2 separate regions of the Homo sapiens genome follow, and region 2 is linked to region 1. Evidence: fine-mapped expression QTL. A gene starts in region 1. The other region holds a variant in brackets. All regions are shown on one strand. Distances are from middle to middle.

What was found. PIP is the estimated chance that this variant, and not a neighbour inherited with it, causes the effect.
Region 2: its variant is fine-mapped to the expression of HEIH in unexposed skin (GTEx, PIP 0.97).

Annotation. Positions count from the first base shown.
Region 1 is chr5:180,826,959-180,843,547 of GRCh38, reverse strand. It overlaps HEIH (hepatocellular carcinoma up-regulated EZH2-associated long non-coding RNA), which reads left to right and starts at 11,930. Exons shown (of 1, transcript NR_045680.1): 1 at 11,930-13,594. It overlaps LINC00847 (long intergenic non-protein coding RNA 847), which reads right to left and starts at 12,591. Exons shown (of 3, transcript NR_045679.1): 1 at 12,319-12,591; 2 at 10,688-10,875; 3 at 7,822-9,236. It also overlaps a transcript of ZFP62 not described here. RefSeq lists silencers at 11,216-11,385, 11,826-11,955, 12,316-12,365.
Region 2 is chr5:180,809,768-180,824,971 of GRCh38, reverse strand. It overlaps a transcript of MGAT1 not described here. Among named protein-coding and RNA genes, the nearest start is that of LINC00847, 14 kb to the left of the region's middle. RefSeq lists silencers at 9-303, 13,871-14,120, 14,791-14,840 and an enhancer at 10,377-10,636. The variant CG/G (reference allele first, on the strand shown) is at 4,869.

The DNA of each region.
Region 1 (16,589 bases):
TGGTATTAATAACATCAGCTTCTTTTTTGGTTACCGTTATATGGCATTTCTCTTTCTTTACTTTCACGCTTTCTGTATTTTTATGTTTTAGATGTACCTCTTGGAAATAGCATATAGTTTGTTTTAATCCAGTCTGATAACTTACTTTAACAGGATCATTTAGCCCTTTAATTTATAGTTATGAATGATTCTATTCATACTCTATTTTTCCATCTTTTGGTTTGGAAGTTATATACTTTTTCTCTTCTTTTAGTGGCCTAGGAATTAAAAGGTGGATTCTTGACTTACCAAAGCCTAATGTTAATTGATACTTTTATCTTCGTCCTAGACAATGCAAAGTTCCTAGAATACTTCTTACCTTCCATCCTATATGCTGTTGTTTTGGTTAATTTTAATTATATATACATATAAATGTACATATATATTAAAATATGTTATTATTTTCTATACCAAACGTTTAATTACTTTTCTTTTTTTTTAAATTTATTTATTTATTTTTTTTTTTTGGAGACAGTCTTGCTTTGTCACCCAGGCTGGAGTGCAGTGGCAAAATCTCGGCTCACTGCAATGGCTACCTCCCAGATTCAAGCAATTCTCCTACCTCAGCCTCCCCAGTAGCTGGGACTATAGGCACACACCACCATGCCCGGCTAATTGTTGTATTTTTAGTAGAGACGGGGGTTTCACTGTGTTGGCCAGGCTGGTCTTGAACTCCTGACCTCAGGTGATCCACCTGCCTTGGCCTCCCAAATTGCTAGGATTACAGGCATGAGCCACCATGCCCAACCTTTTCATTTCCTTTCATTCTTCTCCACCTCTGCAATTTTTTATTTGGGGACATTTTCCTTCTCTCTAGAAAACTTTCTTTAGAATACTCTGTCCTGTTAGAGGTAAAACTTCACAATTTTTATTTGCCTAAAAATAACTTCATTCTTAAAAATGGTTTTTTGTGGGAATAGAATTCTAGGTTAGACCTCATGTTCTTTTGTCACATTGGATGCATTAAGCCACTGAAGTGTGATTTCCACTCTGGCTGTTCATCTGCCAGTTTAATGTATTCTTTTTAAAATAGCTTCTTTTAAGATTTTTTTAATCTTCGGTTTATTCCAGTTTCACTGTGTTTTATTTTGGTGTGGATTTTTTATAAGTGATCCTTTTTTGTATACTCTGGGCTTTTAAATTTGTGTATTTATCTTTCATGAGTTTTGGTAAATTCTCAGCCATTGTGTGCTCAGATATTAGCTCTATACCATTCTTTTTTCATTTCCTTCTAGGACTCCAAATAAAGCCTTCTCACTGTATCTCCTGTGCCTCTTAAGTGCTCGTTTCCATCCTTTTGTCCCCTACTCCTTACCCAGGCTTCATTCTGGATCTAATTTACCTTCCAGTTCACTAAGTTTCTCTTTAGCTATGTAATCTGGCTTAAATATACCCATTGAGTGCTCAATTTAAGTTTTTCTGTTTCTCAGTAATAGACTTTTCATTTGCTTCCTTTTTTCTGGAGACGGAGTATCACTCTGTCGCCCAAGGTTGGAGTACAGTGGCAAAATCTGGGCTCACAGCAACCTCTGCCTTCCAGGTTCAAGCAATTCTTACGCCTCCCATGTAACTGGGATTACAGGTGTGCACCACCATGCCTGGCTAATTTTTGTATTTTTAGTAGAGAGGGGTTGTGCTGTGTTGCCAGGCTGGTCTCAAACTCCTGACCTCAAGTGATCTGCCCACCCCAGCTTCCCAAAGCTCTAGGATTACAGGCATGAGCCACAGCACTGGACCTTCTTCCTTTTTCATAGTATGCCAGATTCTCAAATGTAGCTTTATTTTCCTTGAACATAGTAGCATTTTTAGTTTAAAAGCTGTGTCTGATAGCATCTGTGGCAGTGCTTTCTCTGATGTTGACTCTGAGTGTGTCACCTATTCTCTGCATTAGATTTCTTCCATCTGAACACTTGAGTGGTTTCTGATTTTCAGGTTAGAATCTGACTGATAGACTGCTGTCTGCATGCTCTTAATCTGGGCCTTACAATTTTCTACAGAATCCTTTCACAGCCCACAGCCCACAGCCCCTCTTTGTATTTTGTTAACTTTCAGTAAAAGGGAACTTGGTTCAAGAACTGTAAAAGTTGTTGTCTGAACCCAAAATTCTAAAGGGAATCCAAACTGGGAAAGAAAAAATCCTCGCCTCAAGTTCCTAGCCTTAGTAAAAAGTATATATATATATATATATGTGTGTATGTATATATATATGTGTATGTATATATATGTATGTATATATATATGTGTGTGTGTGTGTGTATATATATATGGATATAGCACACTGCCATGCTTTCCATTTTGTTTCAGTTGGTCTCTTATCCAGCAAGTTCATTTTCTTTCCACAAAACAATATCTGGGATACAAGAGGTTAGCTATTTGCTAATAGTTAAGACGTTTTGGGGTCATTTCAATTCAGTATTTTTAATGTTTCATTCAGAAGTCATTTGAATAACTAAGAAGTTATTTCTTAGACCCTGTCCTCAGAATACACCATTGCAACAAAAAACAAAAAAACCTCAGCACAAATCATGGAGTTCCTAGGTTCCAGCGTCCTTCTTTTTCTGGACGCTTTTTTCCTCTAAAAACAAAGATTGACTCAAGCATGTAACAACAGAAATACTGTGATAGCAATACTATGCTAACATTTTTATTTATTCCTGTGATCTTAACACCTTCCTCCCCAACCCCAACACACACACACACACACACACACACACACACAAATTGTTTTAGCTACTTCTATTTTTTTTTTGAGGCAGATTCTCGCTCTGTCGCCCAGGCTAGATAGAGTGCAGTGGCGGGATCTTGGCTCACTGCAACCTCCACCTCCAGGGTTCAAGCGATTCTCCTGCCTTAGCCTCCTGAGTAGCTGGGATTACAGGCGCCCACCACATGCCCGGCTCATTTTTGTATTTTTAGTAGAGATGGGGTTTCACTGTGTTGGCCAGGCTTGTCTCGAACTCCTGACCTTATGATCCACCTGCCTCAGCCTCCCAAAGTGCTGGGATTACAGGCCTGAGCCACCATGCCCAGCCATTTTAGCTGCTTCTATGGGAAGAGTTACGTTTCCCAGTTTGATTCTCATCTCTACCCACACCTAGAATCCTGCAAGTTATCTAGTTTATCTTGTCTGGAAACTGGCTGATTGACATCCAGTGGGGCTTTGAGGGGCATCTTCAAAGCCTTCCCCATCCCCAGCTCCTCAACTCCCTCTGAAGCTGACTGCCCCTTTTCACGGCCAGTGCATTTAGGAGAAGCCAGGGATCTGCCCCTGAACATAACTAGGCCTTGGCTAAGACCACTGTCCACTGTGCCCAAGCAGTCAGGCACATGGGACAGTGGACAAACACCATGGCTAGAACATCTTCATGGAACACGCCCTCATGATGCAATGGCCTTGTGGCACTTACTGTGGAGGCCTCCACCTGGGGATCCTCAGCTCGCCTCTCTGGCCTTCCTGACATTCTTTCTTTAGGCAGTCCCACAACTAGTATGTTAGGTGGGCTGGGGGCTGGTGGAAAGGGACCACAAGCATATACCCATTGTAAGGTTAGTTCTTCATTAATTAACCAGGGATTCAAAATCTTACCAGAAGCAAAATGGTGGGTGGGGCAGAGAAAAAACAAATTCAGCACATCACTGTGAAGCTGTCCTTGGCGCTGGGAGTTCTTAAGGGGGTAGGAGGCAAGCAGATCTGGAACACTTATTTCCTGTCAGGACACAACCATTTTATTTTTTATTTATTGTAACTTTTAGGTTCAGGAGTACATGTGCAGGTTTGTTATGTAGGTAAACTGTGTCACAGGGATTTGGTGTTCAAATTGTTTCATCACCCAGGTAATAAGCATAGTACCCAATAGGAATTTTTTCTGATACTCTTCCTCCTCCTGCCCTTCACCCTCAAGTAGGCCTCAGTGTCTGTTTTTCCCCTCTTTGTATCCATGTGTTCTCATTGTTTAGCTCCCACTTGTAAGTGAAAACATGCGGTATTTGGTTTTTCCGTTGCAGCATTAGTTCTCTTAGGATAATGGCCTCCAGCTCCACTCATGTTGCTGCAAAGGATGTGATCTCCTTTTTTATGGCTGCATAGTATTCCATGAACACAACCATTTTAAACTAAGGGATTAGGTGACTGTTATGAAAGAAACTAAGTAATTTGTGCTTTAAGGAATTCATACAAACAGGCTGTCATGGTTCCTGAACCAGCCTCAGTATCACCAGGGCAGCATGTGAGAGGAAGTTGAGGCAGTATCTTGGCACTGTTTTTAGCCACTGCTCTATACCAGGCCTTTATATGAGTGCTTTTGCTTCTAAACATACGCTTTTGGTTTTTAACAAAAGGAACCTGACTGTATATACATGATATTGGCACATTTGCATTTAGACAGTAGCTCACCTTTCTGTAAAAGTCCACATACATCTTTCTGCATTCTTTCTAAGGGTTTCCTAGTACACTCATTGTATAGTTATACCATACTTTACTTAACCCCCTCATGATAAATGTTTTGGTGGTTTCCAGTTTTTGTTAGTATCAACAGTGTTGCAGTAAAATACATTTTTCTCTCCTGTATGTTATCCTACAAATACATTTCTAAAGGCAGAATTGCTGAGTTAAGATTTGCTTTTAAATTTTTGCTACATACTGGAAAATTGCTCTCCAAAAATATTGTAACAATTTATACTTTTGACAATAGTGTATGAAACTTTGTTTCTCCACACCTTCACAAACACTAGGTATTATCAACATTTTTCACCTTTTACCAAACTGATGGTTAACAAATGCTCTTTTTAAAAAAATTTTATTTTGAAACAATCTAAACTTGCCAAAGAAGTATAGTATAAAACTTTTTCCTTCCTGAACCATTTGAGAATAAGCTTCTGATATGATGCCCCATCACCTCAGAATACTTTTGAGTGTGTATTTCCTACAAGAACCTCCTACATCATCAGCATACAACCATGAAAATTAGGGACTCAACATCAATTCATTACTACTACCTAATGCTCAGACCCCGTGCAAGTTTCTTTCATTGTCCTAATGTCCTTTAGAGCAAAGATTTCAGTTTAGAATTGTGCATTGTGAGTGTTGCATCTTTTTAGTCTCCTTCAATCTAGAATGGTGCCTCAGCCCTTCCTCAACTTTCATGACTTTTCAAAATTGCCCTACTCACCTCACTTGGGCAGTGACACCCTCACTCCCTGCATGGTCCCCTCTTCACCTTGCTTGGGCACTGAGACCCATGCCAGGCCATGCTCCACCACCACATGGGCCTCCTTGACTCCCTCCTCACCCTGCTTGGGCTCCAACACCTAGCTTCAGGACAATGAAGTTCTGTCCCCCCACAACAGAATCCCATCTTGTTTGGTTTTGTGTAACGGGAGCTGAATTGTTAAGGAAGGGAAGGGAATTCTTTTTTTCATCTCTTAGTAGAAATTTAAGATTTCCTATACACAGGTCCAGTTAAGTTTATTCCTAGCTTCAATAAATGTTTAAAGGAGAGTCAACATCCTCAACAACTTTACATCAAGTGCATTGGCAAATGTAAGGTTTTTTTCTTGAGGGAAACTTTAACAGAGCCCAAGAACAGGACCTTGTACTTGAAGGTGCATCAGCTGAAACAGGAGGCTCGGAGGAGGGCGGCTGTCCCTTCTCGTGAACATCCCTTCAAGAGAAGCCAGACATTTGACAGAAATTGAAAAGGAGACTGTTGGAGATTATATTTCTTCTTGAGGGCCTGGATGCTGGTTTTCAGTTACGTAGTCTTCTCCCCAAGGCAAATTCATCCCAGAAGAGTCTTGTGGGGAAAATTCCAGTAAGTTGAACACTTAATTATCATAAATTTCAATGGGAGAAATTGTTATACATTCCAGAGCCTCCGAATTAACATACCTTTATGCCCAAATCCTTTACATCCCAATAGATAGACTGAGTTAATCTCTGCTAAAAGTTAACTCAGGGATTAGGAGCTTCCCTTCAATGGTTAGCCTAAAAAACAGCTGCTTGGTACCTGGCTGCTTTCCCCACCCTCACTGCCGACATCTGTCATTCAGCTTCTTCCTACCGAGTGTGAGGTGCCACACTCTTCAGTTGCTGCTCACAGTCAAGCCTTACAGCTCAAAGCTCAGAGAAGTAGACCTTTAATGCAAAACAAACCCACAAAACAGAAGAAATGTGATAGATAAACACAGTGCTAGTGATGATGTCACACGCAGTGAATAAGCCATTGTATGAAAAAGCAGAAAAGATGGGGAGGACGCAGGTAGAGTCACTGCTGTTGGATTCATCTTCAGAGATGGGCCACACGGTGGTCTCGTTTCATGGCCCTCAGCCACTCACCAATGCTTTGCAAGCTGTTTCATGCTTACTAAATTAATTCTTCATCCAGCTGATGGCCTGAAATAGAGACTGGGATAAGCCTGAGTTAGCAGAAGCTTCATTGCTCTGGGAAGCAGGCGGTAGGTGGCAGGGCTATGTCTGTGGACACTGAGGGACCTGGCTCTCAGGTGGCTACACATGTATCTGCAGAAAAATGTGGGTTTTATAGCTATTCAAATTCATTTCTGGAGATTCTCATTTGATAGCACAGGAATGTTATGCAATATTAATAAGTATAGCTTTTTTATCAACTTGAATAAAATGTATTCTTACAGGAAATTAATTGAATGCTGTGGCAGTCCCTACTTACTGCCTCTGCAAAGAGTAGCCCATAGATCTGCAACCCACCTCTGTTGTCACTATCCAGCCCCCGTGGCTCTGGAATGACAACACAGAACGCTTTCCAAGGCAGCATGGCCCTTACCTCAGTTTACATTTTCACGACAAGACTGGTTTCGCCATGTAGGCTGCTTTGTGGCTTGACCTCTGATGTGGGTTCACTTGTGCCCCCTAAAAATATATGTTCAAGTCCTAACCCGCAGTACATACAAATGTGACCTTATTTGGAAATTGCATCTTTACAAAGGTAATCAAATTAAGATGAGGTCACACTGGATTTGAGGGGCCCTGAATGCAAAGACTTGTCCTTATGAGGAGTGAGAGATTGAGAGACCCACAGGGGAGAACACTGTGTGAAGACTGAGGTAGGGATTAGAGTTGTGTTACTACAAGGAAAAGAATGTCAGGGATTGCTGGGAGCCACCGGAAGCTGAAAGAGGCAAGAAAAGATTTGCCTCTAGAGCCTTCAGAGGGCAATGGCCCTACTAACAACTTGATTTCAGGCTTCTGTCTTCCAAGTCTGTGAGAAAATAAATTTCTGTTACTTAAGCTTCTCAGTTTGTAGAATGAATAGTCATGGGTCACTTAACGTGGATACGTTGTGAGAAATGCATCGTTAGGCCGTTGTGTGAACATCATAGAGGGCACACTCACAAACCTAGCCAGGAGAGCCTACTACACAGCTAGGCTGCACGGCATGGCCTAATGCGCCGGGGCTGCAAACCAGTACAGCATGTGACTGTACTCTGAATACTGTAGGCAACTGTAACACGGTAAGTATTTGTGTATCTAACCATAGAAAAGGTACCGTAAAAATAATGGTGTTATAATTGTATGGAGTACTGTCAGAAACGCAGCCTGCTGCTGACCAAAATGTCATGTGGTATGTGACTCCTTTGTTACGGCTGCCCTAGGAAATTAATACAGGCTGCAAGAGCCAAACAACCTTAATTAATTAATTAGTTTTTTAGAATTTCAAATAAAGTTTCATACTGCACTTGAAATAGTGGTGAGAACATCCATTTGGTAATGAAACTGTCACATAAATGATCGGCTCAGTTGACACTGGCTGAGGAAAACTGCACAAGAAGTTTATTGTCAAAAACATTTATTTCTTCAAGTACAAATAGTAAGTATTAACCATTTCGGATGGTTTGCATGTGCTCGGTTTTACTTATGTTAACTCATTTTTACCTCACAACAGTTACCGTGGTAAGAAATTATTATCCACATTGATATGTAAATATCAATCCACAGAGGAAGAAAATTGCTTAAGACCAAAGTCATAGTTATTAAATGCCAGGGTCACAATATACCATCTGCAAGCTGGAGAATCAGAGAAGCCGGTGGCATGGCCTGATCCAAGTTGGAAGGCCTGAGAAACAAGGAGGCACATGGTGTAACTAAGTTCAAGGCTAAAGGCTTGAGAGCCCCAGAGGGCCACTGGTGCAAGTGTCAGAGTCCAAAGGCCAAAGGACCTAGAGTTGTGTGGTACAAGGGCATGAGAAGGGTGTCACAGCTCTGGAAGAGAGAATTCACCCTTCTTCCACCTTTTTGTTCCATCTGGGCCCTCAGGTGATTGGATAGTGCCTGCCTACATTGAGGGTTGATCTTCCCTACTCAGTCCACTGAGCAGGTATTCTCAAGTCTTTATCCTTGAACTCAGTTCCACCATGTGCTTGTTTCTCAGGCCTTCCAACTTAGACCAAGCCATGCTACCATTTCTTTCTTAGAGTTCTGAAGGCTGGCAAGTCCAAGATCAAGGTGCAGGCAGATCTGGTGTCTGAGGAAAGCCCACCTGCTTCTGGTTTGCAGATGGCAGTCTTTGTGTGGTAGTCTTACATGGCAGAGAGAGAGAGCAAGCTTTTGTGTCTCTCTTTATAATGCCACTGCCATGATCTGAATGTGTCCCCTGAAATTCACTCATAAAACAGTCTCCTCCAAAAACATGGTCCTTCTCAGAAACAGTGCTTCCCCAGCCATCTAGGCATCCCTCAATCCTGTCAAGTTGACACCTAAAACTATCACAGGGACACTCTACAAGTAACTGGTAAACCCACCAGAAGATCAGGGTCCAGATGCAGAAAGCAGGTGCTGATGAGTTTTTAAATATCTTGGGGTCTCCTAGTGGGCTGCTATAGCAAGTTACCATAGACTGGGTGGCTTAAACAACACACATTTCTTTCTTACTGTTCTGAAGGCTGGCAAGTCCAAGATCAAGGTGCAGGCACATCTGGTGTCTGATGAGGGTCCACCCGCTTTCTGATTTGCTGAGGACAGTCTTCTTGTGGTATTCTCACATGGCAGAGAGCAAGCTCTTGTGTCTCTTTTTATAAGGCCACTGCGATGGTCTGAATGTGTCTCCCAACATTCATGTGTTAGAAACTTGGTCCCCACCAGCTATATGGAGGCTGAGGTGGGAGGATCGCTTGAGCCCAGGAGTTTGAGGCTGCAGTGATCTATGATCATGCCACTATACTCCAGCCTAGGCAACAGAACAAGGCCCCATCAATCAGTCAGTCAATACATAAATAAGTCTTTCCATCTATCCCTAATGCAACAGCTGTGAGAGAACAAACATCTGTTCTATATAAATTACCCAGTCTCGGGTATTCTATTATAGCAGCACAAAATGGACTAAGACAGCCACTAATCCCACTCATGAGGGCCCTACCATCATGGCCTAATTAGTTACTTCCCAAAGTTCCCACTTCCTGTTACCATCACAAAGGGGTTAGGATCTCAGCATAGAAACTTTGGGGGCAGACGAGCATTCAGTCCATAACATGGAGTGTCTTAGCTTGGGTTGCTATAACAAATACCATGCCAGCTGGGCGCAGTGGCTCACGCCTGTAATCCCAGCACTTTGGGAGGCCGAGGCGGGCGGATCATGAGGTCAGGAGATCGAGACCATCCTGGCTAACACGGTGAAACCCCATCTCTATTAAAAATACAAAACTTAGCCAGGTGTGGTGGCGCATACCTGTAATCCCAGCTACTCAGGAGGCTGAGGCAGGAGAATCGCTTGAACCCGGGAGGCAGAGGTTGCAGTGAGCCGAGATCGTGCCACTGCGCTCCAGCCTGGGCAATAGAGCGAGACTCCATCTCAAAAAAAAAAAAAAAATACCGTGTCATAGAGTGGTGGAGAAATTTATTTCTCAGTTCTGGGGGTTAGAAGTCTGAGATCGTGGTGCCAGCATGGTCACGTTATGGTGAGGGTCATCTTACAAGTTGCAGATGGCTGCCCTCTTACTGTATCCTCATATGGCAGAAAATCAGCAAGCTAGCTCTCTGTTCTCTTTTTTTTTTTTTTTTTTTGAGACAGAGTTTCACCGTATCGCCCAGGCTGGAGTGCAGTGGCGCAGTCTCAGCTCACTGAAAGCTCTGCCTCCCAGGTTTACACCATTCTCCTGCCTCAGCCTCCTGAGTAGCTGGGACTACAGGCACCCGCTGCCACACCTGGTTAATTTTTTGTATTTTAGTGGAGATGGGGTTTCACCGTGTTAGCCAGGATGGTCTCGATCTCTTGACCTCGTGATCCGCCCACCTCAGCCTCCCAAAGTGCTGGGATTACAGGTGTGAGCCATCTCTGTTCTCTTAGGCAGTCATTCCATTCATGAGGGCTCCACTCTCATGACCTAATTACCTCCCAAAGGCCCCACCTCCAAATAGAGAAATAGATTTCAACATTAATTTTGGGGTGACAGTCCATTCGTAACGGAATGAACCAGGAGACTGCTGACCAGAACATGGAAAGTGCAGCCTTGTAAACAGTCCGTGTGCTCAAGCCTGGCTGACTGTCAGACACAACAACCAAACCCTCACCTTGACCCCCACCCCCAGCCACACTGGAACCTGAACTGAGAGGCCACCCTTTCCCTGCAGGACCAGCTCCTAGAACAGCGGTTCTCAAACTTGAGCAAGTGTCAGAATCACCTGAAGGGCTTTGTTAAAACACAGGCTGCTGGGCCCCAGAGTTTCTGATGCAGGAAGTCTGGGTGGCTGAGAATTTGCATGGTTACAAGTTCCTGGGTGATGCAGATTCTGTGTGTCTGGAGGTAACATTTTGAGAACTGCTGTTTCAGAAGTTCTCCACATTAAAGTCTACCAGTCCTGACTGGTACCTAAGGGGTCATGAGGTAGTCAGTGCACAAGATAGAAAGTGAAAACACTGTCTTAGAATTTAAAACAATACTTCCTAACACCAATAGGTAGCTTTTGATAAAGGAATTATCAAGCATGGCTGTATTCATTTCTTATTGCTGCTGTAACAGATTACTACAATTTGGTGGCTTAAAACAATGTAAATTTATTATCCTAGAGTTTTGGAAATCAGAAATGGAAGCCCAGGCGCAGTGGCTCATGCCTGTAATCTCAGAACTTTGGGAGACCAAGGCAGGAGGACTGCTGGGGCACAGGAGTTTCAGACCAGCCTGGGCAACATAGTGAAACCCCATCTCTACAAAAAATGCAAAAATTAGCCAGGCATGCTGGTGCACCCCTGTAGTCCCGGCTACCTGGGAGGCTGAGGTGGAAGGTTCACTTGAGTCCAGGAAGGTTGAGGCTGCAGTGAGCCATGATTACGCCACTGCACTCCAGCCTGGGTGACAGAACAGACTGTCTCAAAGAAAAAAAGAAATTAGAAGTGAATCTCACTGGGCTAAAATCAAGGAGCCAGCAAGAGTTGTGTTTTTTGTTTTTTGTTTTGAGATGGAGTCTCGCTCTTGTCACCCAGGCTGGAGTGCAATGGTGCGATCTCAGCTCACTGCAACGTCTGCCTCCCAGGTTCAAGCGATTCTGGGGAGGGGAGGAGGAGGGAAGCAAGGAGAGAGGAACGCAGGGAGCAGAGCCTGACCTGGTCACAGGGGTCTGGGAAAGACAGAGGCTTTGTTAGAGCCGGCAGCTGAGGGCCGAGGCCGAGCAGGGGTTAGGCCAGCACAGGACGAAAAGGAAGAAAGTTCCAGGTGGAGTCTGGTGGAGAAAGACCGACCTGGAAGGCACCAGCATGTGCACGTGGCAACTGAGGTCGAGGACGTGCCTGAGAGAGAGGAGGAAGGTGCCCTGCGGACCGGGTAGGGTGCGGAGGTCGGGAATGGAGAACGGTCGTTGGGCAGGTCCGGGTACCCGTAGCCAGAACCACCCGGGTGTGCGCAGCTCGGCCAGGCCCCGCCTCCCGGCGTCCCCGCCCCCTGCTGGGCCTCTCTCCGCAGCCGCGAGACCCGCGCTTGGCGCATAGGCCGGTTCTAATTTACAAGAACACCGCGGCCTGAGGCCGGAGAGTCCCTTCAACCCGGGAGGCGGCGGCTGCAGGGAGCCGAGACGGCGCCATTGCCCTCCAGCCTGGGCAAAAAGAGCGAAACTCCGTCTCAAAAAAAAAAAAACATGGCCGAAACCAGGAAGCTGCGCGATGGCGCCACGGCCCCTCTTCTCCCGGCCTGTGTCCGGAAGGTTTCCCTCCGAGGCGCCCCGGCTCCCGCAAGCGGAGGAGAGGGCGGGACGTGCCGGGGCCGGAGCTCAGAGGCCCTGGGGCCGCTCTGCTCTCCCGCCATCGCAAGGGCGGCGCTGACCTGAGGCCTCCCCGCAAAGGTCCCCGAGGCGGCGGCGGCGGCGGGCTGTGAGAACCGCAGAAGAACGCTGGGCGCGCAGCGACCCGTCCACCCCCGCGAGGAGAGACTTCCACAGAGGCAGCGTTTCCACAGCCCAAAGCCACGTTTCTAGGGTGATGCAGCCCCAGTAAGTTCCTGGCGGGGAAGCTCACGGCTGTCAAAAGAACTCTTCGCTCCAGCCGGCGCACGAAGGGGAGGAGGGCAGGAGGCTGCCGCCCGCACAGGTCATCTGATCACGTCGCCCGCCCTAGTCTGCTTTTGTGAATCTCCACTTTGTTCAACCCCCACCCGCCGTCTCTCCCTCCCTGCGCCTTCCCTCTAACCTTAAAGACCCAGCTACCTCTACGCAAATGGTAGCTACCTCTGCGCAGGTGGAAGTTGAGTTCGGTTCACGCGGGACCCTCTTCCCTGTGGCAAGCTGCTGAAGGAGACCTGCTGTTACTGCTTTAGCTGCTGTTCTGCTTAATCTCAGACAGCTGGAAGGTAGTATTCCGCCCTCGCCCAGCCACCCGAGTAAATGAGAATGATGACTGACTGAGACCCTGATGGTGGTGGCTTAGGCTTAATCTCAGACAGCTGGAAGGTAGTATTCCGCCCTCACCCAGCCACCCGAGTAAATGAGAATGATGACTGACTGAGACCCTGATGGTGGTGGCTTAGGCAAGATGAACGTCTGAAATGGAGGCCCAGGGCTGCCACGATGGCTCTGTAGTCATCAGGGAGGGAGCTCCTTTTATCTTGTTACCTACTCCCCTCTTGTGCCCCTTTCTTCCCTTGATCTAAGAAGGTTGCTCCGGATCTCGCCATCTGGCCTGCGTTCAATCAGCAGAAGCTTCCTGGAGGAGCAGGAGGAGGCACTGTGCTCGCATCACATACCAGTGGCCAGAAGTTGGCTTCAGGGAAGCTCAGGAAATAGGATGCGAGAAGCCATGAGACCTCCCCAAACTCTGCAGTAACAGAGTCAACAAGACAATGGCTTAAAGATGGAGAGACCAGTTGATCGGTCACACAAGCTGTTCCACGATAATTCTTGTGTCAGAAGGGGAGGCTGACTACCAGGACCACTGGCCCCACTTCCAGCCCCTCCATTCTGAGTACACTTCAGAGGGCTCTGGCAGGGTGAGGGGGTCTTGGTGGTGCCACAGAGAGTAAAGGTCTAGCACACCCATTGTGGAGATATTTCATGGGGACAACCCAGTGACTTCACTTGAAGTAAAGTGGGATTTTCCAACCTTGAGATTCTTATTTTCTTTGGTATGCGTGTGGAAGAAGTATGAAGGTGGGGGTTGGGAGGGAGAGCAAATGAGCTGTGTGTATGAGGAGCTGGGGCCTGGCTCTTGACAATATCACCCACCCCCACCCCAGGCTTTCCTTGGGGCAGAAAGACTATGGCCGGGGCTTTCAGTGTCGGCTCCGAGGTATAGAGGTATAACCAGTGCTTTTGGCTAAGTCACGTCACTGATGAGCTTCTCTTTCCACCTTGGCAAACCAATTCTTCTGTAAAATGGTCTTCAAAGTTTCTTTTTTAAAGCAGAGAAACTTATTTTTCAGATAAAAATTTAGATAGAACTATCGGGGGAACCCGATAGGGGCCAGATATCGGGGGAACCCACCCCCAATATTTCAACATAGGTTCTTTCTATTTTCCATAAATGTTGGCCGGCTGAGAAATAAAGAGTACAAAGAGCGGAATTTTACAGCTGGGCCACCGGGGGTGACATCACATATTGGTAGGACCGTGATGCTCACCTGAGCCGTAAAACCAGCAGGTTTTTATTAAGGATTTCAAAAGGGGAGGGAGTGTACGAACAGGGAGTAGGAACAAAGATCATATGCTTCAAAGGGCAAAAGGCAGAACAAAGATCACATGCTTCTGAGGAAACAGGACAAAGGGCAAAAGGCAGAACAAAGATCACATGCCTCTGAGGAAACAGGACAAAGGGCAAAAGGCAGAACAAAGATCACATGCCTCTGAGGAAACAGGACAAAGGGCAAAAGGCAGAACAAAGATCACATGCTTCTGAGGAAACAGGACAAGGGGCAAAAGGCAGAACTCCTGATAAGGGTCTATGTTCAGTGGTGCACGTAGTGTCTTGATAAACACCTTAACAGAAAACAGGGTCTAAGAGCAGAGAACCGGTCTGACCAAAAATTTACCAGGATGGAGTTTCCCAATCCTAATAAGGCTGAGGGTACTGCAGGAGACCAGGACGTATCTCAGTCCTTATCGCTACCGCATAGGACAGACACTCCCAGAGCAGCCATTTATAGACCTACCCCCAGGAATGCATTCCTTTCCCAGGGTCTTAATTATTAATATTCCTTGCTAGGAAAAGAATTCAGCAATATCTTCCCTACTTGCACGTCCATTTATAGGCTCTCTGCAAGAAGAAAAATATGGCTCTTTTTGCCTGACCCCGCAGGCAGTCAGACCTTATGGTTGTCTTCCCTTGTTCCCTAAAAATTGCTGTTATTCTGTTCTTTTTCAAGGTGCACTGATTTCATATTGTTCAAACACACGTTTTATAATCAATTTGTACAGTTAACACAATTATCATAGTGATCCTGAGGTGACATACATGCTCAGCTTATGAAGATAACAGGATTAAGAGATTAAAGTAAAGACAGGCATAAGAAATTATAAAAGCATTATTTGGGAACTGATAAATGTCCATATTAAAATAAAATCTTCACAATTTATGTTCTTCTGCCACAGCTCCAGCTGGTCCTTCCATTCGGGGTCCCTGACTTCCCGCAACATAGAACCCTCAAATAGATGAAGGTGGAGCTTCTTGGGTAGAGACTGGAGGATTGGGGTGTTGCCCACCGGGCCTTACGGACTCTCCTGAGTGATCTGAGTCACCTCCAAAGAGCTAGGTGTCAACTCCAAAACACCCTGTGTCCCTTTCTTCCATTTAGTAATCGAAGCCTTACCACCAGAGGTTTGGCAGGGCACGTTGAAGGGGTGGGTTGCCCCTCCACACCTGTGGGTGTTTCTCGTTAGGTGGAACGAGAGACTTGGAAAAGAAAAAGACACAGAGACAAAGTATAGAGAAAGAAATAAGGGGGCCCGGGGAACCAGCGTTCAGCATATGGAGGATCCCGCCAGCCTCTGAGTTCCCTTAGTATTTATTGATCATTTGTGGGTGTTTCTCCGAGAGGGGGATGTGTCAGGGTCACAAGACAATAGCGGGGAGAGAGTCAGCAGACAAACACGTGAACAAAGGTCTTTGCATCATAGACAAGGTAAAGAATCAAGTGCTGTGCTTTTAGATATGCATACACATAAACATCTCAATGCTTTACAAAGCAGTATTGCTGCCCGCATGTCCCACCTCCAGCCCTAAGGCGGTTTTTCCCTATCTCAGTAGATGGAACGTAAATTGGGTTTTATACCGAGACATTCCATTGCCCAGGGACGGGCAGGAGACAGATGCCTTCCTCTTGTCTCAACTGCAAGAGGCATGCCTTCCTCTTATACTAATCCTCCTCAGCACAGACCCTTTACGGGTGTCGGGCTGGGGGACGGTCAGGTCTTTCCCTTCCCATGAGGCCATATTGCAGACTATCACATGGGGAGAAACCTTGGACAATACCTGGCTTTCCTCAGCAGAGGTCCCTGCGGCCTTCCGCAGTGTTTGTGTCCCTGGGTACTTGAGATTAGGGAGTGGTGATGACTCTTAAGGAGCATGCTGCCTTCAAGCATCTGTTTAACAAAGCACACCCTGCACAGCCCTTAATCCATTTAACCCTGAGTTGACACAGCACACGTTTCAGGGAGCACAGGGTTGGGGGTAAGGTCACAGATTAACAGAATCTCAAGGCAGAATTTTTCTTAGTACAGAACAGAATGGAGTCTCCTACGTCTACTTCTTTCTATACAGACACAGTAACAATCTGATCTCTCTTTCTTTTCCCCACAGCACGTGCCCAGCTTCCTTTCAAGTCTCTGGCCAATGCAATGTGAGCAGAAGTGAAGGGGCAACTTTCAGGTGATGACTTGGAAAAGAAAGCTTAGTCCTCTGCTTCTCCTGTCACCCGAAAGAGAAACAGAGGCTTGTCTTGTTGAAGCCAGTGTGTTTGGTGTCTTTTTGTATAGTGGCTTAGACAGTGGCCTAACTAGAAGACCAAGGCTCAAAGGAACACATTTTGAGCTTCTCCACAGTTTGAGAACCTCTACATTACCTACACCAAGCCTTCCCCAGCACTCAATTTATGGAAGACCATTTCTC
Region 2 (15,204 bases), 18 kb after region 1:
GGAAAAGATCACTGATGCCTTTACCTGATGCCTTACCTCTGAAGGATATTTCTCCACATAATCGGCCCTCGGTTTTGTGCTGAATGCAGCTGTTGAAGGAAGCAGCTCTCTGTATTACTTGCTGATTATCCTGCCAACAGGAATTTGGGTGTGCGGAAATGGCATCAAATTCTTTCCACTGGGAAAGTGCTAGCAACAAACAAGAGGTTAAAAAGCTTTTGAAAGCACAGCAATTTGGGTGTGAATATCCATTCTGAGGTGGATGAATTAGTTCCTGATAAAGTATTGGCTGCTTATTTGAAACTGGTTGAGGAAAAGAAAACATGGCTTTAAAAAGCTCTTCAAATACAAATATATCCTCAATTTTATCTGCTTTTTACTGATATTTATCTGTCTGCCTTCTATTATGAAAATTTTCAACACTGAAAAATGTCAAAAGAAACCACAAATGCTTTTCATCTAGATTCAATGGTTGTTAACGTTTTACCATATTTGGTTTTTCTCCTCTCTCTGTCTCCCCACAAACACATGATACACACCATTTTTGAAAATAAGTTGTCAGTATGGCATCATGATCCGTAAGTGCTTCAATATGAATCTCCTAAGAATAAAGAAAATCTCCTGTATAACCGCAATACCACTATCATACCTAGGAAACTTAACAATGATTCTACAATCACAACTAATATCCAAGTCATTTTAAAATTTTTGCAATTGTACCTTAAATGTTTGTATGCAGTTTCCCCCGAGAGCTAATCAAGGCTTATGGATTCCATCTGGAGGCTAATCTGGAAAATCTCCCCCACCTTAACTTCTGTTTGGTTTTGATTTACGACATTGACTTGAGGAATCTGGGCCAGCTGTCTTAGAGAAGGTCACACATCCCTGGCTTGCCCGATTGTTTCCTGATGGTGTCCTTTAACTTTTACTTTTAAGCCCTTATAATGGAAGTTAGGTTTTAGGTTTGAATAAACTTTTTTCTTTTATTTATTTATTTATTTGGCTATAAAGAATACTTTACAGGTATTCCATGAGGAGGTCCTCACACTGGGTTTTTGCCAGCAGCGATGCTCAGGGGGATGACCTGTTGAGAAAGTAATTATTATATGTCCATGAGAAGGTACCTTTGCCTGGAACATCAACTGAGGCAAAGTTTACATGCTATTGCTTTGCAGGGTGGGGGTGCAATGCTGTGAAAGGGGAAAAATGAATTGAGGGGGAAACTACAAGATGGTCTGCTGCTGAATTAGCCACTGCTTGATAAACAGCACAGCTGGCCGCTTGGCTATGTGAGACATCTTTGGAGGTGCTGTGTAGCTCCGTTGCACCTCAGAGGAGTCCTACAAGGCAAAGCTCACGTGGTGGTAAAGCACTTGTACTTCAGGATTGTGTTGCTAGCTGCCTCGACACAGCCACTGGGAAAGCCAGTTCACCCGGGGCTCCTGCTGGACCTGGGCACAGGAGTTGCTGCAGCTCCTGCCCTGGCAGGTGGAATGACATGGCCTTGCCAAAGACAGCGGTGCCTGTCATTATAGGAGGTAAGGTGACAAGGTGGAAGCTGGAACTTTGCGGCCATCACTGGAGCTGCTTTACCTAGGATCAGGGTAGTGGGTCCCCAGGGGCAGGCAGGGTCAAATGGATGTGCTGGCTGGGTATAAATTGGATCCAACATTTTTTTCCTTTTAAATTACTGAATGATTTGTGGGGTGTACTTTGCCCCTGTAGGAATATTCTATTGCCCTGCCACGTTTATGTAATGGTTTCAGTATCCATTGATTATTCTTGCCTGTACCATTTATTACAGCAGGAGATGCAAGATATGAGGGTTAGTTATGTTCGTTACCACTAGGGTGTCATCGTACGCTTTTTCAGGAACACAACTAGGATGCTTTATTTACATATGTAATGAATATATATATAATAAAAATATATATATAATGAAATAGTATGAGTTTGTATTGCTATTGAAATTTAACATAAGTGTTTACATTATTTTTTTATATTTTATCTTTTTCCTCTTATACAGAAAAATTCCTAGTTCCTAATAATATTGATATATAGATATAGTCAGAGTAATATGTTCAAGTTACCCAAATTAACCTTTTTGTTTATTGTTGGTTTGGATCAATTTTATATAGAGTTGGTCATTTATTTCTCTTAAGGTACAATTTTAAGGCATTTTCCTTTATAAATTACTTTTATTTCTGAATATATAGAGAATAAATGGTTCAAAAATCAACATTGTGTAAAAACATTTGATCAGAGAAGTCTCACGCCTGTGCACATCCCCACCACCCTGCCCCAGTCTCCCTACAAGGATAGGTCATCAAGTTGATTCGTTTCTGGTTTTTCCTCTCCTGTGTTTCTTTTTGCAAACATGAGCAAGTACATATATACATTTTAATTTATCCTTCTTTCTTACACAAAATGTGGCGCACTATACACTCTGTTCTGTCTTGCTTCTCTCTCTTAATAATGTATGTTCAAGGCATCATTCCACATTGGTTCACAGACACCTTAAATACCAATTTTTTTTTTTTAGATGGAGTCTTGCTGTGTTGCCCAGGCTGGAGTGCAGTGGCACGATCTCGGTTCACTACAACCTCCACCTCCTGGGTTCAAGCAATTCTCCTGCCTCAGCTTCCCGAGTAGCTGGGATTACAGGTGCCCACCACCATGCCCGACTCATTTTTTGTATTTTTAGTAGAGACGGGGTTTCACCATGTTGGTCAGGCTGGTCTTGAACACCCACCTCAGGTGATCTGCCCGCCTCGGCCTCCCAAAGTGCTGGGATTACAGGTAAGAGCCACTGCGCCCGGCTTTCAATACCAAAATTTATCAATTGTTTATCATATGTCCAATGTATTAGGGTAAGCTAGACAATGCTCCCGTAGCACAAAAAAAAAAAAAAAACAAACCTCAAATTTCAGTGGCTTTACAAATAAAAGGCCGATCGCTTGCTCACATAAGGTCCTTTGTGGATTGGACAACCCTCCTCTATCTTGTAATTGCATCACCTACAACATGTATCTATATGGTGGCTTATTGGCTAGAGCCGTCACATGGACTCAAACTGGTGGCAAATGTAGTGTTATGTTCATGAAGAGGAAACTGAGAGGGGATTTGGTGGGTACTACTAGCACTATCTCAGCCACGCAAGGCTTTATATAGGCCTCACAACAGCTCTGTAAAGTAGATAATCTGATTGTTCCCATTTTACAGCTAAGCACATTGAGGCTCCAAGTATTCATATGCCTTTCAGAGTCATAGTGTTCCTGTATAACAGGGTTCATTTCAAATGTAGGTTTCTCTGCCTTTAAAGCCTGTACTTATACCCAATTCCGTGGTCAGTCATTATTGTCCACTAATAAAGAATGGCAAATCCATTTCATCCACGCATGAATGCAAATCTCCAACATAAGAGATCAGTACAATTGGTACAGAACAATAAATATTTAGAGTTAAGATTCATAAGCTGTTTTCTACAAAAAAGTGCAAGATTAAAATTAAATCCCTGGACCAATGAAGACTAAAACATTACAGGACACAATGTTTCAGTAAATTGGAAAATAAAACAGTTTTATTTATAATTTCTGAATCAAGAGCTAATTGTTATAGGAATTTTTTAAAGCTCAAAGTGAAACTGTAAACATTTTTTCTTCCTCTTCCTAAGTAAGAGCATCATATACTGAGCACATGAGAGAAGTTATAAATCTTTCAAAACCATTTGGGGTGGTTCTGAGGACTTACGTCAAGTAATCTTCAAGGATTTCAGTCTTCCCTTTAAAGGAAGAAATAAACAAAAAAATCACATGGCCATTTGGACAGTGCCTCTTGCCCAACATTATCACTTACTGCCTAAGACTCCAGGCAACAATGTGTCCAGTGTATGCTTTTAGAAAGTGATTACAACCAACTAAAACTGGGAACCCCAAATTAAAGGAAGCATTGCCGTCTGTATGCTGGGACTGTAGACTCAGTGACAAGGTAGGGTGGTTCCAGAAGAGTGATTTTCCCTCACCTGTGAGTGTGAAACTAACACCTGGCTGCTGACCCAACATCGTTTTCACAAAGAACACCCTGGGAGTTTCATTATCATATCAGGTGCTTCAGGCATTCTGGACTGTGACTACAGTTCAGGAGGACCATCAGCCAGTGTACACACACACACAAGTTTTATGAGACTAAATTCAGGCAATACACTCTGATCCCCACCCTACCCCACCCGCCTACCAGACTCTTGCCTTTCCATCAAAGCCCACTCTCTGCCCCACATAGGCCAGGTCTGTCCATCCCCTCAGGATCAGGACCTTTGGGCTTGGTTTTTCCTGTTATTCTTCTTTTTCCCACCCTACACCCCATCCCTCAACAGAAGGTCAGTTATTGTGTGGAATTGCTCGCACACCGATGTTATCATGAAGCGCTGCACTCTTCCCTGCCTTCCTCCTGTTCAGGCTGTTCCTTTAACCTTTGGCTAGAGGCAAGGATGAACGTCACCTCCTGGACAAGACTTCTCCAAGTCTTTGGCAACCAGGACCGTGGGCTGGGCTCCAGGGCCTTGCAGGGCCTCCTTCCAAAGAACCGAGTCTTTCTTCACTGGTTCTCTCCTCTCTCTCTCTGCCTGGCCACAATGCCTTCTGAGGCCTTATCACCCTTTGTTAACACTTGCTCATCCAGACTCTTCTGCCAGGGCCATCTGGGTCTTTTAAATTGGCATTAGAGTTTAAAAAAAGTCAAATCAAACTGGTATTTAACAAAAACATTGCAGGCGGTGGCTCACGCCTGTAATCCCAGCACTTTGGGAGGCCGAGGCGGGCAGATGACGAGGTCAGGAGATCGAGACAATCCTGACAAACATGGTGAAACCC[CG/G]TCTCTACTAAAAATACAAAAAATTAGCTGGGCGCGCTGGGGGGCACCTGTAGTCCCAGCTACTCGGGAGGCTGAGGCAGGAGAATGGCGTGAACCCGGGAGGCGGAGCTTGCAGTGAGCCGAGATCGCACCACTGCACTCCAGCCTGGGCCACAGAGCAACACTCCATCTCAAAATAAATAAATAAATAAAAATAAATAAAATAAAAAAATAAAAACAACAACAAAAAACTCCTAATCATTGTTAATGTGGAAATGGTTGCCACTGGAATAAATTTGAAATTATGTATTTAAAAAAATCTAACCAGTATTTAAGTTCTGCTATGTGTGCCTAACACTGTTAGGAGCACACAGTTAAGACACAAGTTCTTGCATTCAAGAATCATATTGGAAGACAAGATTTAAGTAAATGAAAGCCATTTAACGGTGACCCAGAAAATAAAATGAGTCTGGAATGATTAATAAAATCATATAATGACATTGTGTTTCCTCATCTGTGGAATCACAGAGGATTTGATCAGGTTATCCATAAAGTTCCCTCTTTTATTCCAAATAAATGACACTAGATATTTCAAATTTTATTATTTTTTATATATAACATATAATTTGTATTATACTATATAATATAATATAAAACATAATTATATAATATATTATATAATATAGGTAATTATAATATATAATTATAATATATAAAATATATATAATATATAATATATAATTATATTATATATTATATAATTATATACAATATATAATATAATATATAATTTATAATATATAATATAATAAAATAATAATATAAATTGTTATATAATAAAATAATATAACAGTACTATGTGCCAGACACCATGGCTGACAACTCTTCCAACTTTCATAAAACCATGAGGTGGCCATTATAAATCTTCCATGTGGCAGGTGGGGAAACAGGCACAGAGAGGTTAAGAATTTGCCCGTGGGCACACAGCATTGTGGTACAGTTGGCATTTGAACCCAAGGGAGATAACCAGTGTGCCATGGCATCTCTGTGTAGCCCTAACCTCATTCTTTCCCATACTTACTTTTCAAAGTGTATTTCCTTGCTTCTTTAATGGGAAAACAATGTATCCTTCTTGGGATGCCTATTTTTCTCTTTTCCATTAACCCACAAACTTGGCCTTCTCAGTTCAAACTTGTACAATTTGCAACCAAGTTTCTAACATTGTCTTGGCTGGGACTCTTCTCTAGGGATTTGGTTTACTGGAATCTACAAATTTTACTCCGATTTTAGCCGAAAGTCCTGTCTCATTCACTGTATCGCTTATCTTTTTAAATTTTCTCAAAACGTGGTAGGCAAAATCTTCATCTTGTAGCTCGCTTTTTTTCTACCCCTTTTAACATTTTGATTCCACAGCCTCCCTGGGAGGACCTCCTCATAGTGCTTCACTGAAACCTGAGTTTCTTCCATGGCTGCTCCTGTCTACTTCATCCCTGCAGCTGCTGCACATCCACCCAAGTCCTCTCAAGACACTGCTGTGGGACTGAGAAATAGGAAAAGGAGGAAAGCCAGGGACAGCTGTGCCACAGTGAATTCCAACGTAGGGCAACGAAAGCTCATCCTGACAGCGTACTGCACTTTCGAGGAGCGTGGCATTTGAGCTGGGAATAAAGTCCGAGGACATCAGGAGGTGAAGGGAGAGCTACCGCCCTGGCTGAGAGAGGGAGATGAGTCTGGGGTCTGTGTGTCCCTCAGGCCAGCCATCCCTGACCTCTACCCTGGAACAAACTGCCTGTGGTGTTCTGTATAGTGCCAAAGCCCAGAAAACAACAAATCATGATTTTTTTACTCAGAATATTCTCCTCACCTGGGTTCCAGCTGAGTAGATCTGAGCCATTTCATGTATTACATCCAGTTCCTCACTGAAATGCCAATTGTTTTTCACCCACTCGAGAAGGCAAGTCAGCTTGCTGTGCCCACAGACATGACCTCAAATGGGTTTGATTTATTTAGGCAGGTCAGTCATCTGAAAAGGTCAGCCCTTAGCAGTTCCTAGGAATTAATCAGTGGTGTGACACAACGCAGCTGTGATTGCCACAAACCAGCGACAACTGGGTAGTGGCAGGCACGGTACTAAATTATTAACCCCCAGAAGTTTGTGCCCGCCCCCCCTTTTTTTTAAACTTGCCTTGAATGCCACCTAATGAGTGCTTGCTGGGGCGTGAAACAGTCTTGAACCTACATTCTTGCATTGTTTTGGAAGGCGTCCTGTGTTGATACTGAGTGGGGGCCTCGTACAGACCACATTTTGTCACAAAATAAGGTAGAAAAGAGTGAATCATACACCTGGAAAAAGATCAGAGAACTGTGCTTTGAAAGATTAATAGATGTGTTTCCCTTTTTATGACGAATGAAGATTATTACTGACAATTATTTAAAATGTTTCTAATAATTACAATGGTTGTTCTAGTTTAAAACTCATTTCACAAAAGATAAAGAATTATACAGTTCTAATTAAGGTTTGGGAGTAATAGTTAAAACTGGTTTTCCCCAAAGTACTTTTCAACTGTTCCTGCACAAGGAGATGAGTAAAGAATTTGCTCAGGGTCTGTGATGAGCTGGACCCTGGAATGAAGACCAGAATCCAAGCTCCTGACCTCAGACCCAGCTTAGATGATAAGGAGCGTAAATACTCATACTGGAGTTTGGTTGTTCTTGAAGAGAGATTTATGATCCCCAAACCAGGAGTTCCTTTTTCCCCTGGTTGCTTTCAAGACCTTGTGGTGACCCACCTACTCCCAGGAGGCAATCCTGATTAATTTTACTGCCTCCAAACCGGTCTTTGTGTCAGCACTTCTGAATTGACTTCAGTCTTTTGTTTCTTTGTTATTTCTTAAGAGTGAATTTCCTTTCTCCATGTGACCTGAAATATCTTGAAGGCAAAAGACGCTTCTATTTATAACTGTGCTTCCTTGACCTTCCTCTCCCACCCTTCTCCCTCCATACCCCTCTTCCTGCCTCCCTGCCGCCCCTCCCCTTCCACACACAAGTGGAGGCCCAGTGCAGGAAAACCTCAGCCTCCTGGCGTCAGGAAGGTTTCAAATTCTCACTGGTAATGGACACACACCGTCTGGAGGAGCTGGGCTGAAAAATTACTGGCCTGGACAAATGCTCCTGATTTAAATGTAAATTCAGACTTAAAAAATAGACCTGGTGATATTCAGAACTTACAATATCGTTTAAACAGACTGGCTTTCTCTGTGAAGATCACTCTTTAGGAGCCCTGAAAAGGAGAGGCCAGGTGGGAAACGGGAACTATGGGAACTGCTTCCTCAGGGAGGGGAGTGCAGGGCTCTCCACCAAGTGCCCCCTGGAAGCTCAATGCCCAGCAGCGCCAGGCGCCTTCCGATTGTATCTGCGAACCTAAAGCCCTCAGATGTTTATGCAGCTCTTTGCGGTTTTAAAAGGGTTCCCACACACATGGTTTCACCTGATCCTCATGAGTGCCTTGCCAGGGGTGAAGGACAGATTTCATTATCCTCGCTTTATGAAGAGGAAACTGGATCCCTGGAGTCCACGGAAATGAGAGGAGCCAGGATCTGAGCCCACCCATAAATATTCATTGAATTGCACTAATATAGAAATATATGATTATTTTAAGGTAAACAGAATGTTTGTCCTTAAGAAGCTCATATCTAATTGTGGAGAAATGTTCAAAAATTTTTTTTTTATTTATTTTTGAGATGGTGTCTTGCTGTGTCACCCAGGCTGGAGTGCAGTGGCACGTACTCGACTCACTGCAACCTCCGCCTCCCAGGTTCAAGCGATTCTCCTGCCTCAGCCTCCCTACTAGCTGGGATTACAGGTATGCGCCACCACGCCCGGCTGATTTTTGTATTGTTAGTAGAGATGGGGTTTTACCATATTGGCCAGGCTGGTCTCAAACTTCTGACCTCAGGTGATCCGTCTGCCTCGGCCTCCCAAAGTGCTGGGATTACAGGCATGAGCCACCGCACCCGGCTCCAAAATAAACGTAATTAAAATAACCATACAAGGAATAAATAAGGCAAGACCAGACATCCTTCATTGTAAAATGAGGCGAGAAAGTGCTGTGATTTTTTAGGGGACTTAGGTAACTGTTACCCCATGATTGAATGGAACTGAAATTTCTGTATCTTCCACCCCAACTCCATTCCATGTTCCTGCTGAATATTCTGGGTTTTGCTAGAATTCCTTATGACACATAAAAAGTCTTCAGCTCTACGCCTTAGGCATGGCGATGTCTGGGTTTGTCACGTCATCTTCAGTCCTGTATTTACAGTGCAACTCAGGGCCAAAACAAAAAAGAATTTTTTTTTTTAATTTAAAAAGTCACAGGGAACATGAAAAAGGGGAAGAGGGAAATTTGTCTTCAGTGTTGCAGGAAAGTCCACCCTCTCCTTCTAGGGGTGGAACTTAGTGGATCTAATGAATCACACATGAAAAGAGACGTAAAAGAGGAAGGAGTTTCAGGAGGGTATTGGCCAGGTCAAAGGAGAGGGTGGAGGAAAAGAGCCACGAAATAACCGGGAGACAAGCTTTCGGAGGCTTTTGACTGACTGGATGTGGGAATGTTGTGGAAGACTTCTGGCCTGCCATTTCCTGAGAACGGGACTGCTGAGAGAGGAGCTGGGAGGAGCACTGCAAATTTCACTTTGGACACGTGAGTCAGAGGTATCTGTGAGGGGACTGAGTTGGGAGGGCAAGCAGGGAATTGGACATGTGGGCCTGGAGCACAGAGAAGGGACTTGAGCATGCATATTTGGGTGTTCCCTCCAAAACTTATGTTGAAACTTAATCCCCAGAGTGGCAGCATGGAGAGGTGGGGCCTTTAAGAGGTGATTGGATCATGAAGGCTCTATTCCCACTAATGAATGGATTCATCATGGGAGAACTGGCGGCTTTATAAGAGAGGAAGAGAGACCTGCGCTAGCACCTTAGCACGCTCAGTCCCCCTGCCATGTCATGCCCTGAACCCCTCAGGACTCTGCAGAGAGTTCCTACCATCAAGAGGGCTCTCACCAAATGCAGCCCCTCAACTTTGGACTTCTCAGCCTCCAGAGCTGTAAGAAATAAATTCCCTTTCCTTATAAATTACCCAGTTTCAGATATTCCTTGTTTTTAATTTTTAATTTTTTTTTTTTTTTGAGACAGAGTCTCACTCTGTCGCCTAGGCTGGAGTGCAGTGGCGCGATCTCAGCTCACTGCAACCACCGCCCCCCCGGGTTCAAGCGATTCTCCTGCCTCAGCCTCTGGGGTAGCTGGGATTACAGGCACCTGCCACCACGCCTGGCTAATTTTTATATTTTTAGTAGGGATGGGGTTTCACCATCTTGGTCAGGTTGGTCTTCAACTCCTGACCTCATGACCCACCCGCCTCAGCCTCCCAAAGTGCTGAGATTACAAGCGTGAGCCACTGCACCCGACCCCAGTTTCAGATATTCTGTCATAAGCAATAGAAACAGACTAAGTATCTTTGACATGGAGTGGATACTGGAAGCCATGTGACTTCTGTGGGATCATCTCGAAAGAAAGTGTAAAATGAGAAGACACAAGGGCCCAGGAAAGAGCCCTAGGGAACTCCGCATTTGTACAGCAAGTGGTGGGTAAAGAGAGAAAAGGGAGAAGCCTGCTAGGATGCTGAGGAGGAGCAGCCAGAGGAGGGGGAACCCCAGAGAGCGTGCTGGCGTGGGAGTCAAGAGAAGTGTGTCAGAAGAAGGGAGCGGTTGACAATGTCAGAAGCTGCCAAGAGGCACAATAAGATTGAGGGAACAAGTGAGTGTGGTTGTTTCTTTATGGGCCAGAATTTTAAATACCAGGATGAAGGGCACCTAACAAATAGCAAATACACAAACTAACTTTTGTACCTACCAGACTTCAGACTAAAATCGGTACAAAGAATACTCGCCAGGGTAAGGAGAAGCCCAGGAAATTACAAGAGATATCTAGTTTCTGAAATGAATTACAATGATCATCTGAACAAATAGTGTGAAAAAATATACACCTGAAAAAATGTGTGAAAATGGCCAACAAAACATTGAAAATCAGGGTTACTGGGGAAGACTTTTACTGCCAGTTATTAAAATTTACTATCAGCTGTATTGACTGGAACAGCTGCCAGAATAGGTAATTCAACAGCCAGGATGGGAAGCCCTGATACATAAGTTTGGTGGGGACTGTAGGTAGCCCCTCTGGCTACCTTCTTTCTAGTTGAATAGGTTACATATCTAACTCCCTTGCAATTAGGTTCACCTACTCAGGTGCCCTTGAGTTAGACTTGAAAGGCAGAAGACAGCAGAGGCCATTTTACTGCTGCTTCTGATGGAGATGCGAGGCTTCCATAGGAAAGAGGGGTCCACTGGTATAAAGAGCCCGACAACCATGTTCTCCAGATGTTCAGTCCCTCTTGGCCACCCCACACCAAATGACAGTCCGCGAGACTCTGCCCATGGAGACTCCACCTGCTGGTCCTCTAGGTGGAGTAACTGATAACAAAAATCTCTAGCTTACTCCTAAGTGTTTATTCTGAAGGCAGTATGTACAGCAAGACCAGACTTTTGGCCCAGCTAGCGGTGACTACTGCAATGTCAAAAGAGCACATAAACAGACTTAAAAAGCAAATGACAAACTGGGAAAATTGCTGTAACATAGGTAACAAAGGGCTGATATTCTATAAAGAGTTCTTGCAAATGAATAAGACAAAGATGAATCCAAGTGGGCAAAAGATATGCTGTAGGCAATCTGCAAAAGTGATGCATAAAAACAGGTTCAACATTACTAGCAATTAGTGGAATAAAACTTAAAACAACAATGCAAAACCATCGTTCTATCATATTAACAAAGATGACAAAAAATGGTGTGACAGTGCAGGGTGTGGAGAAAAGTTGGTGTCAAAGCTGTGCCATCTTTCTGTGTATCTTTCATATCAAACAAACGCCTTCAACAATGAGCACACCTTTCGACACGAGTTCCCAGACTTTATCCTAAAAAAAAAAAAAATGACGTGCACACAGATTTAGCTACAAGTAATTTTGCAAAAGTGAAAAGTTGAAAACAACCCAAATGTACAAAAATAGGGGAGATAATTATGGTACATTTGTATAATAGTATGCCACTTGGTCATTAAAAATGCCATAGAAGTATATTTTTCATAAACTTATTTCTAGCTGCTGGTTTTACAGGTGGTTTTTGCTTTTTTATTTTATCATTTATATTTTCCTGTAATTATTGCATATTTTTTAATAATTTTTTAAAACCGGCAATTATATGGTGAAAAGGAGAGAAGGGCATTAGTAAATTCTGAAGCAACTGAAATTAAATTGTAATTGCTCATTAATAAATAAACATCATTACATACTAACATTTACCTTAAATAAACTAGATTTCATTTTTCTACTATGGGAGGAAAGACCTAAAATACAAATTGACTCGAATTATAGAAAATAAAGTTACAATTCAGGAATATCTGTCTTTGGACTGTGAAATTTGTACCTGTTATGTATGTGTGTGTGTGTGTGCCTGTGTGTGTGTGCGTGTGTATAAAAAATATTTGGAAAGATATCCACTAGTTTAAAAGTGGTTCCTTTCAGCAGGGTGGGATGAGAGGGGGACAGGAGACAAATTTTTATTTACACAACTCTGTATGACTTGTTATAACAAGCACGAAAAATCGAAGGTCACTTAAGTAAAAATGGTTATAATTATGAAAATACTTAGAAATATGTAAAGTCTCTATGGTATGATTAGAAATCATAATGCAAAATCTGTATACTGTGCTTATACCTATGTTCATATATTTCCATGTGAGAGAAGCCCGAAGGGGAATACTCTGCGGTGAAAGTAGCTTTTCAAGTTCATTCATTGGTTCATTTATTCCACAAATGTGTGCTGAGCTGCTACCATGGGCCAGCCAACTGTTGCAGCCACCGGGATATAGCAATCAAAAATCAAATGTGCCTCCACTCAGGGAACTTAAATTCTAGTAGTGGGAGACAGACAATACATGGTAAACCCGGCGAGTATTTCAGGAAGTGGTGAGCGTCCTGGGAAAAGTGGAGCAGGCCAAGGGAGACTAGCAGTGCTCTGGGTCAGGGGCAGGTTTAAACAGGTTGGTCAGGAAAGGCCTCACTGAGGTGACATGGGAGGAAAGATTTGAAAGAGCTGAAGGGTTCAGTCCTGGAAATGCCTGGAAGGGGTGTTTTACAAATAGACAACAGCCGGTGCAGAGGCCAATGCAGCTAACAGAGGAAGGGGAGAGCAGGTCAGACAGCTAGGCAGGCCAGTGGGTTGTCCGGCTCTGCAGCCATTGTAAGGACTTTGGCGTTTTATTTCAAGTAAACTGAGGAGCCGCTGTGCAGTTTGGAGCACAGAAACGACAGGATCCCTGTGGCTGCTGTACGGAAACCCAGCGACTGGGAGGGTAGGGAGGGCAGGGAGACCTAGGTGTTCAGGTGAGGGATGAAGGGGGGTGTGGACATGTTGAGGTGTTGCATCCTAGACACAGATTGAAGGTAGGGTCAACAGGATTTCTAGTCAGATTGTGTAGAGGGGGTGAGAGAGTGAAGCTGGCTCTTCTGGTTCTGGCCTGAGTAAATGGAGCCGCCATTAATGCCCATGGGAAAGACAGGTGGGCGGAGAAGGTTTGAAGGTGGGGGAAGAAAGGGTCTTATTTTCTTCTTCCTTGCAATAATATATCCCAAGCAATATAATTAAGCAATATGTATTTTTCCCTTTAAGGAAATTCCAAAAATTATATCGTTCCAAATAAAAAAATCATCTCCAGAGTCCTGACGCAGCAACCATTACATTCCCAGTAATGGAAATGTTAAGTCAGTCCGTGCTCTGGAGAAATCCCACGACAGAACACAGGCCAGGAGACCGGGCCTAGATTCCGGTTTTCGAACCGTGGGGGCAAACACGGAGGCTGCAAATCCATCCCCAGTCCGGCAAGATTCTCGAACATGTCGGGAGAGGGCTGCATAGGAACTTCAAAAACGAGTAGCGGCTCCCCTGGATTCAGCGTGAGGGGGAAACCGCGGGGCAGGTTCGAAACTCAGGAGTCCGACGTCTGAAGGAGCGGGAGGCTGCTTCCGAGGAGCCCGGGGCACGACGGGAAGGGCCGCGCCGGCCAGGCAGCCCTCCTCCCGGCAGCCTCGGGCAGGCCGTTCACGCGCCGGCGACGGCGGGCCCGGCCGCAGGTACCAACAGCACCTGTCAGAGGGCAGCGCGGGCGCACCCTGCAAGGGCCCTGCCTCGTCAAGAGAGGCAGCGAGAAACAGCAGCGATGAACGAAACAAAACCTTCCTCCACCACGGCTACACAGAGCTCGCGTCCGAGGAAGCGGGAACACACAGGCCCCGGTGCTTTCCGAAAGGCTTCTCGCCAGGACCCGCGACCAGCGTGGGGCGGAGGGGGGGGGTCACCCTTTTTGAGAAACCAGGTCAAGCAGGCCGTCGCTGGGCGACCTTTGGGCGGAGGGAGAGGGCAGGGCTGCACCGCACAGGTTCCGCCCCTACTTCAGCGTCCTCGCCCCTCCCAAGCTCCGCCCAGCACCCCAAGGGCCAACCCCCCCGCGACGCATGCGTGCTTCTTCCCGCGCGGCTCCACCTGCCGCGCGCTTCCGCTGCTGGCCAGTCTCTTCTGCCCCTCCCCCTCCTGTACGGCCGCTACTCTGCGCCCGGCTTCCTTCTCACAACCTGGTTCTGCCCACACCTGTTCTTCAGCCCTGTGAACAGTGGCTGTAGAACAGTCTCAGGCCCTGCAGACCCACCTCCCTCGCTCCCGTGGTGGCGGTGGTGACGGGCTGGGGACGTTGGGTAGAAAAATGGGCGGGATGTGGAACGCTGCGTTGCCGGGGCCCACTTCCGGAGGACGGGCGGAAGTGGCTGCGGTGGATGGTGGGAGGGGGGAAGGAGTGCGAGGGGAGGGCCGGGCCGCTGGGGGTCGAGGGGGTGGGGCCTGGGCCAGCGCTGGGGATCGGGCCTGGGGCCTGGATTGCGACCCGCGGCGGGCCGCGGCTCCTAGCCGAGACGGGGCGGGCGGGAACCAGGTAACGACCCGGCGCAGTTAGAGCGAGGGTCGTCCGCAGGGCGGACGGGTGGGGGTCAGAGTCCAGGAAGGGTCGCAGTGTCACCCTCTTCTCTTGTGAACACGGGGCACGGGGTTCCGGGGAGAAGGGTGGGAGGAGTTAAATTCTTGGAGGGGGTGGAGGTCATGTGGACGCCACGCCCCTACAGGAAGGAAAGGAGAGAGAGAGTGTGTGTGGATGGATGTGTGTTGAGAGAGAGAATGGATGTGTGTGTGTTTACGAATAAACTTGGA